2 linked regions of the Homo sapiens genome follow. The protein of the gene in region 1 interacts with the protein of each later gene in a pairwise test. Each region holds a gene or a part of one and is shown on either strand. Other genes may lie near its edges.

Region 1 (5,580 bases):
AGGTTTCCGTTCTAGGGGGCCTTTAAATCTCAGACTCGAGAGCTAACAGAGACCTTTGATACTCACTACCTCCTCTGGAAACACGAGCCCAAAAAGGAGAGGTGGCTTGTCCAGAATCAAAGAGCAAATTAGGGACTGAGTCATGGCAGAAATACGGGGCCCTTGACAACCAGTCAGGCTAGCACTTCCCCAAGAGGCAACAACCCCAGGGCGTGTGTAGCAAGGACTCGAGCAGGGGTGTCTGGAGAGGAGAGAGTCGGCAAAGAGGGCAGCAAAAGAAGAGCCATGCTGCATGCTCTGGGGTCCCTCCAGGTGAGGCCTGGGCACCCAAGCTCCCTATTTGTCCCAGGCACCAGGGACCCCCAGCCCCTTTCTTCAGGGCCCCAAGGGGAAACTGGAGCCCAGGATTGGCAGCGTGGAATCAGGGGACCCCAGTGGACTCTTACCAGAGATTTGATGGTGTTCTTCAGTTGACTGATTTCTACGGACCTTGAATCCAGGACTACTGCTCGTTCTTGGCACGGGCTCTGAGGTGCATGCAGAGAGGAGGAGGTGGAGCAGGAGTGGGGGGAGAGGTAGAGAGAACAATCATTAGGGCTGGGGTGTGTAGGCTGTCTCAGCTGGCAGAGGGGCACCCAGTCCCACCTGGAGGAGGAGGTTGGAGGGTTGACCCGAAGGGTCACTGCACCTCCGCCCAGAGCCTCTTACCTCCAGATCTTTCAGGGTAGCAGATGATGTAGGGCCTTCCCTGTGGAAACCTGTTGCTGACTACAAGAGATGAGAGTGCACATGGAGATGTTCTGTCCCCCACAGTGTCTGAGCCCTCTGACTTCCTTTCTTCCCCATCAACTGGCAACATTTTCTTTTCTGCCTATCTTGGACCTTTTGTCCCATAACTCCTTTGTGCCAACTTCTCTCATGGTTCTTATCTCCCCACCATCCCATCCTGGGGCCCCTTCAGTGACTCCTGATGGCAAGTGGCTGTTCTCATTGTCCTGGTTTCCCCCTGAGACTGGGGATGAGGAAAATCAAACCATATCCTGGGTGTCCTGAGTGTTTACAGCAGGCCATGTACTAGGGATTAACATAAAAACAACAATAACAAATCTCATTTAAACTTCACAAATGGAAGTGAAACAATAACACCTCTATTATACAGATGTGAAAAGAGAGGCCCGATGAGGTCTAGCAACTTGCCCTAAATCATATCCCTAGCAGAGCAGATGGAGAGGCAGGATTCAAACCCAGAATTCCTTTTTTTTTTTTTTTCTTTGAGACAGAGTCTTGCTCTGTCACCAGGCTGGAGTGCAGTGGCATAATCTTGGCTACTGCAAGCTCCACCTCCCAGGTTCACACCATTCTCTTGCCTCAGCCTTCTGAGTAGCTGGGACTACAGGCACACGCCACCACGCTTGGCTAATGTTTTGTATTTTTAGTAGAGACAGGGTTTCACCGTGTTAACCAGGATGGTCTCGATCTCCTGACCTCATGATCCGCCTGCCTTGGCCTCCCAAAGTGCTAGGATTACAGGCGTGGGCCACCACACCCGGCTAAAGCCAGAATTCTTAACCAGTACCCAGCAGTCCATCCACAATCTTAAGAATTACCCTCTATTGCCCCTTGGGCCCCCTGTCCCCAGAAGCCTGGTCAGCCAAGACTCACATCCCTAGGTGGCTGGCAACCACCAGAAGTGGCTTTCTCAGGGATACTGCCATTTGTTTTCCTGTTCCTGTTCGCTCCTGCTGGAACTCTAGGGCTGTTTTTCTGCCAATATTCTTTTAACTGTTGGAAAGAAGAGCAGTAATACTCATGAGAACCATCAGCCCCTACAGCCACATCCTCCTTTACAGTTTTTACAAAATACACTTACACACCATCTGATTTAATGACACCAACAACTGTACAAGGTGTTGTCACACTCATTTAGTGACTGAGAAGGATTGATATCATGGCTAGAAAAAAAAAAAAGAAAAAGGCAATACTGGAACTTTGAAACTCAGTCTTCTGACTCCAAGCTCTGAGGTTTTGCCAAGAATCAGCAGCTGCCAGGGACCAAAACCAGAGGCAGAGGTAGAAAAGTAAACATTAAGTAGGCAGGAACTGTATGCCATGTGGTTTAGAGTCATACATCCTCACACGTCTGTTAGTGTGAAGAAGTGCACCAGTACCTCTCAAACTCTTATATCAATGTGTCCTCATGGCAGAAGGCAGCCTTTCTCTTAAATCAGAATTTATCAGAAAGAGGATAACCCAAGCCTCATTTCAGAGAGAGGTCTGGTATACTCTTAGAAACCTATGTGACTGTCATCCCTAAGTACATTCATGTTTTTTCTCTTGATCTCAAGAGAATCAAGGGAAACTGATGCTTCAGAAAGATGTCCCACATTTATCCTGTGGCACTCAAAGTACCCAAGGTTGAGATAATATGAGGAAGATTCAAGGTGTCAAGTTCAGTTTCCCAAGATCTATTCCACAGAAGATGAGCAAATGTCACTTCAGAGACCACTGACTGAAGGAGAGTCTGGTCCCAGAACCATGGAGAATTAGAATATGAGGTGGAGAACTCAGAAAAAAATGTTAAAATCTCTCTGGAAAGTAGAAGCCTGGGAGAAAACCAAACCAAACCCATTCTCTCATTGCCACCCAGAGATACTGTCAACGTTTTGAGTTCATGGGGGAAGTGTAGGCTTTTCCCACCGTCAACATCTGTAAGGGAGTGAGGCAGCCTGGAACCTCTTCCTCCTAGGTCCCATAGTCTCCATTCCCCTTCCAGCTGGAAATTTGTGCTGTGACCAGAGGAACCAGAAACGGGGTGAGAACGCTTAGGGGACTGGGTCGTAAGATCAAAGGCCAGTCTTGCAGTAACGGCAGTTACTAGGTGGACTGTGACATCACAACATTCCACTCCTCCTGGTCGGGGGGAGGGACCATGTCAGCACCATGTCCAAGTCGCTGCTCCACGATGGGGGAGGGAAGCACAGGGTTGGGACCCAGCTCCTTGGAGACGCCAGCACAAAGAACCCAGGGAGGTCGACCTTGAGGCAGCAGGAGGGGAGGGCACAGTCTGCAGCAGGGAGTCCCAGGAGTCACCAGTCCAAAGTCACCCAGGGATGACTGGCGAGGGTGGGGCCTGGCTCCTTGGAGATGAGAGCCCAAAGAGCCCAGGGAGATCAAGCTTGGGGCGGCAGGAGATGAGGGCCCAGTAATGGAGCGGGAAGCCCCAGGACTCACCCACCCAAAGTCACCCTGGGGTGATTGGCGAGGGCAAGGACTGGGCTGCTTGCTGAAGGGGTGGGGCTGACTGACAAAACTTTGGTGGGGGTAGCCCAGAGGCACCGGGGTAGGGGGGACGAGTCCAGTGTGCCTCAGGAGTCGTATAGACTCTGGCAGGGGTCTTGTCATCAGAGGGGATCTGTGGCTGGGTTGAGGGGCTATGACCTAGTGCGTTTTTACCTTTTTCTTGGCTGCAGCCAATTTGTTGTGTTGAGTTTCTTCTGCCATCGCAGGGTGGGGAGGGAGGCAGGGTTGGGGTCACAGCAGCAAAATCTCAATGAGAACCGATCAAGGCCTCCAGTCACCTACCAGGCAGCTGTGTGACTGAGCCAGAGGAGGCGTAACCAGGGCCCCAGTAGAATGCGGAATAGGGGCGTGGCCTTAATGCTCCAAGCCCATTGGTCAATGAGAAAGATGAAAAGGAAAGGGGGCGTGGCCAGAAAGCAGTGTGTCCAGAGGGACCTGTGGCTCACAAGGAAAGCTGCCCATGGCAACCGCTCTCCCCACCCACTCTAAGAGAGGGGAGAGGCCTCCCACTCTGGAAGAGAAGAGGGGCCGGCTTTTGCTTTAAAAGCTTTAAAACTTTAAAAAATATATGTGTGTATACTTTATATATATGTGTGTCCGTGTGTGTGTATCTATGTTTTTCTCCATAGCTGTCTTCATTATCCAGCTTCTATGCAAGGTCTATGATTTTGGCCTATATTCTTCATCTTTGATTACAGTACAAAAATTACCAGTATTACCTTAACTGAGATACAGATCCTATAAAAATGGAAAATGCATAGCATGCTTGATGATTAATGAAGCAGACTATATTATCCAACATTCTAATAAGATAAAATAATCACAATGATTTCTCTTTTTTGGAAAAATGTTTCTTTTATTCTCCTACGTTTTCATTAAGATTTTTTTTTCTTAAACAAGAAACATGTCTAATATCTGTAAAAACACAAAGCTTTTGGGCCGGGTGCAGTGGCTCATGCCTGTAATTCCAGGACTTTGAGAGCCCAAGGTGGGTGGATCATGAGGTCAGGAGATCGAGACCATCCTGGCTAACACGGTGAAATCCCATCTCTACTAAAAATACAAAAAAGGCCGGATGTGGTGGCAGGCAACTGTAGTCTCAGCTACTTGGGAGGCTGAGGCAGGAGAATGACATGAACCCCCGAGGTGGAGCTTGCAGTGAGCCAAGATCATGCCGCTGCACTCCAGCCTGGCTACAGAGCAAGACTCCATCTCAATAAATAAATAAATTAATTAATTAATTAATAAAAATAAAAAATTAATAGTAAGAGCAATGTGAACAAAAGTTGTAATAAAATAATTTAGAAAATACAAACTATTAAAAAATAGATTTTAAAACTTGTGCAACAAAGTCAAACAGCACCCAACGAAAATGTATACCCTTACATGTTTGTTTAAAAAGCAATTTAAATTACATTGATCCACTAAACTGGGAAAAGCAAAACAAACAAAAAGGGGGAAATAATTAAGACATAAGGAAAAAGGAAAAAGAAAAACCACTAGATTTAAAAAATAAAACTGAAGGAGGATTCTTTCAAAAGACTGAGATAATAAAACAGTCAAGCCTCTGATAAGTAATCAAGATAAAGAAAACTTTGAAGAGAAAAGGGCATATAGCCACATGTGAATATGATGCAAAAAGTGAAAACTTTACACATCTTTACAACACCTTAGAAGTATGGATGACATGTTCATTTTTTTTTTTTTTTTTTTTGAGACGGAGTCTTGCTCTGTCACCCACGCTGGAGTGCAGTGGCGTGATCTTGGCTCACTGCAAGCTCCGCCTCCCGGGTTCACAACATTCTCCTGCCTCAACCTCCCGAGTAGCTGGGACTACAGGCGCCCGCCACCACGCCTGGCTAATTTTTTGTATTTTGGCTTAGTAGAGACGGGGTTTCACCATGTTAGTCAGGATGGTCTCGATCTCCTGACCTCGTGATCCACCCGCCTCGGCCTCCCAAAGTGCTGGGATTACAGGCATGAGCCATCGCACCCGGCCAAAGTGTTCATTTTTTTTTTTTTTAAGAACCTACAGTTATGAAAACTAACTGGAAAGAAATGGGTTTTGGGAAAGATTGAGTACATTTTTGTGATGTTCAACATTATTTTTTCTTACAGTTTTAAAAACACAATTGATATTTCTATCAATTTGACTTAAAAAAATTAAGAACTATATTAAAATTTACCAGCAGAGGGGAGTGAAGGAACACAAAGCAACTTTCAGTTTAGGGTAATTTTTGGGCATAAACAGGGCAGCACTGTCCTCAACTCTATTCTTCT
Region 2 (2,758 bases), on another chromosome or scaffold:
ACCTGATTCATAAGTCTGTCCTTTGATTTATCACTCTGCATTAATATATGTTATGTGCCTTTCTCTCTCAAACTGGATAAGGAGACTTTCTGGAAGAACAGAGCATCAGGAGAAAAAGTCTTGCCTATCAATAGAAAGTGCTGGTTCAAACAATTAATACAGGCAAGGATTCAATCCATACTGGTCAATTTAATTGCCTTCTACCAGTTCCTCTCTATGAACATATGAACATAAACACATATACACACCACATTTTCTAAAAGATTACAACTATTTATCCAGAAACAAAAAGACAAAGCAAACCCAGCAAAAACATGAAAACAAACAAATGGATATATTTTGTGGTTGGGACATTTCACTGAAGGTGACTGTGAAATAATATTTATCTACCAATACACTCATAATTATTTTAAATTTTATTCAGGGTATCTCACTTTCTCTGTACCCAAATTCCTTGGTGTCTCTTCTCTCCTCCCTAGTGGCTGCTTCATCATGAATGCTAAGAGAGACCCTCCAAACTCCAACTGGTTAGTGATCTGTCTTGAAGAAAATCCTCAGCACTGTCTCCCTAATATGTTTGGTTCTGACCCCATAGATTACAGGATTGAGGGTGGGAGGAACAACCACATATAGATTAGCCAAGAAAATGTGGATATATTGGGGAATATCATGGCCAAAGCAGTGTGTAAAGAAAGAGAAAAATGCTGGTGTAGAAAAGGCTAAGATAACACCAATGTGAGAGCCACAGGTGTTGAGAGCTTTGAGTCGAGCTTCCCAGGAGGGCAGGCAGAAGACAGCATAGAGGATCCTGATATGGGAGAGAATAATAAGGAGCACATCCAATAACAAGAGAGAAATACTGCCAAGACCAAACATAATGTTGACTTTGATGCTGGCACAGGCCAGACGGGCAATGCCCATGTGCTCACAGTAAGTATGAGGGATGATACGATGTCCACAGAAGGGCAACCTTAAGAGGAGAAACACCAGTGGAATGACCATGTACAAGCTCCTCAGGACAGCAATGCCTGCAATGAGGCTGATGATTTTGCTGGTGAGGATCATGGTGTACCAAAGAGGTTTGCAAATGGCAATGTAGCGGTCAAAGGCCATGGCCACCAATACGATGCTCTCCATGACAGTGAAGAAATGGATGAAGAACATCTGAGAAAGGTAGCCTCCAAAAGATATTTCCTTGATATTGAACCAGAAGATGCCCAGCATTTTGGGAATGGTGGCCGTAGACAAGCTCAGGTCAATGGAATCCAACATGGCCAGGCAGTAGTACATGGGCTCATGGAGACTCTGCTCAGTTTGGATCACAAAGAAGATAGCAGCATTTCCCAGGAGTGCAATAAGATACACAGAGAAAAAAGGGAATCCAATCCAGATGTGCACATCTTCTAGCCCTGGGATACCCAGCAGTAGGAATGAAGAAGTATGGAACTGGGTGTCGTTAGCTATAGGCATTCTTTCTGTCACAAAAAGCTGTTGTGTGTATCAGTGACAATTATTGACTTTCCATTAGTGATTCTTGCTCCACTTCTCACTTTATCCTGATTCCTGGTAAAATAAAAAATAGCATTGTACTCTTCTTGGTTCCTTTCTGAAAAAGAGTAAAATACCTCTTACTCTGCTAGGGTCATATGAGCATGAAACAGAATCAATAATTAAATCAGCTTCACCTGATTGCCACTTTTCCTACCAGAATTTATTACACATGAGGAATAAAGTGGGGAGAAACCTCTATCTGCCTGACAGAAATTTATAATGAAGAGTCTATGCAGAAACTAATTTTAAAAATAAGATTTCAGAACCTATGAATCTGATCGTTTTACACTCATTTTTCTTAACTTTCAGGCTGATTTTTATCTGTAATCTCTGTTAATCCCTTACTAGAGATCCTGCTAACAATAAAGTTTATATTTGTGCACTGAGTGTGTGTTTGTGTGTATCTATGCATTTCTACATGAATTGTAGAGTACTAGTGGGTTTACTTTTAGAGCAGAGAGAAAAAGCCTATATTTACACATACATGTAATATTTATTATTTATTTCTTTTTTTATTATTATGCTTTAAATTTTTGGATACATGTACAGAATGTGCAGGTTTGTTACACAGGTATCCACGTGCCATGATGGTTTGCTGCACCCATCAGCCCGTCATCTACATTAGGTTGTTCTCCTAATGCTATCCCACCCTTAGCCCCCAAACCCCCGACAGGCCCCAGTGTGTGTTGTTCCCCTCCCTGTGTCCATGTATTCTTATTGTTCAACCCCTACTTATGAGTAAGAACATTCATTGTTTGGTTTTCTGTTCTTGTGATAGTTTGCTGAGAATGATGGTTTCCAGCTTCATCCATGTCCCTGCAAAGGACATGAACTCATCCTTTTTTATAAGTGCATAGTATTCCATGGTATATATGTGCCACATTTTCTTTATCCACTCTATTATTCACAGGCATTTGGGTTGGTTTCAAGTCTTTGAAAAGCGTATATTTTTTATATACCACTTAAGAGTTCTCAATTTTAAATGTTAATCAAGTTAATAAATTGAAAACCAGACAGCAAAAAATTTTAATGTGATGTTTCAGAAAATAAACAACTCCTTGATCATCACAATTTCTTTTGCAAAAAGAATACTGTATCCATCATTTTTGGAAATTGGGTAAAGAAAATTAAAGGAAGATAATTAATGAAAAGTATTTTGCACTTAAAGCTAAATATGGAATAAAAGATTAATTTAGATAAATACACC

What was found.
Region 2: the proteins of GOLGA8K (region 1) and OR52E6 interact in a two-hybrid assay, tested with the Homo sapiens proteins (one large-scale study listed by BioGRID).

What each region holds. Positions count from the first base shown.
Region 1 is NC_000015.10:32,399,694-32,405,273, forward strand, and holds the start of GOLGA8K (golgin subfamily A member 8K), read right to left. Parts: upstream 3,600-5,580; 5' UTR 3,502-3,599; coding exon 3,454-3,501; intron 1,783-3,453; coding exon 1,663-1,782; intron 1,268-1,662; exon of another isoform or gene 769-1,267; coding exon 709-768; exon of another isoform or gene 528-708; coding exon 447-527; exon of another isoform or gene 1-446.
Region 2 is NC_000011.10:5,840,428-5,843,185, forward strand, and holds OR52E6 (olfactory receptor 52E6), read right to left. Parts: upstream 1,471-2,758; coding exon 529-1,470; 3' UTR 501-528; downstream 1-500. UniProt on the Homo sapiens protein: Odorant receptor.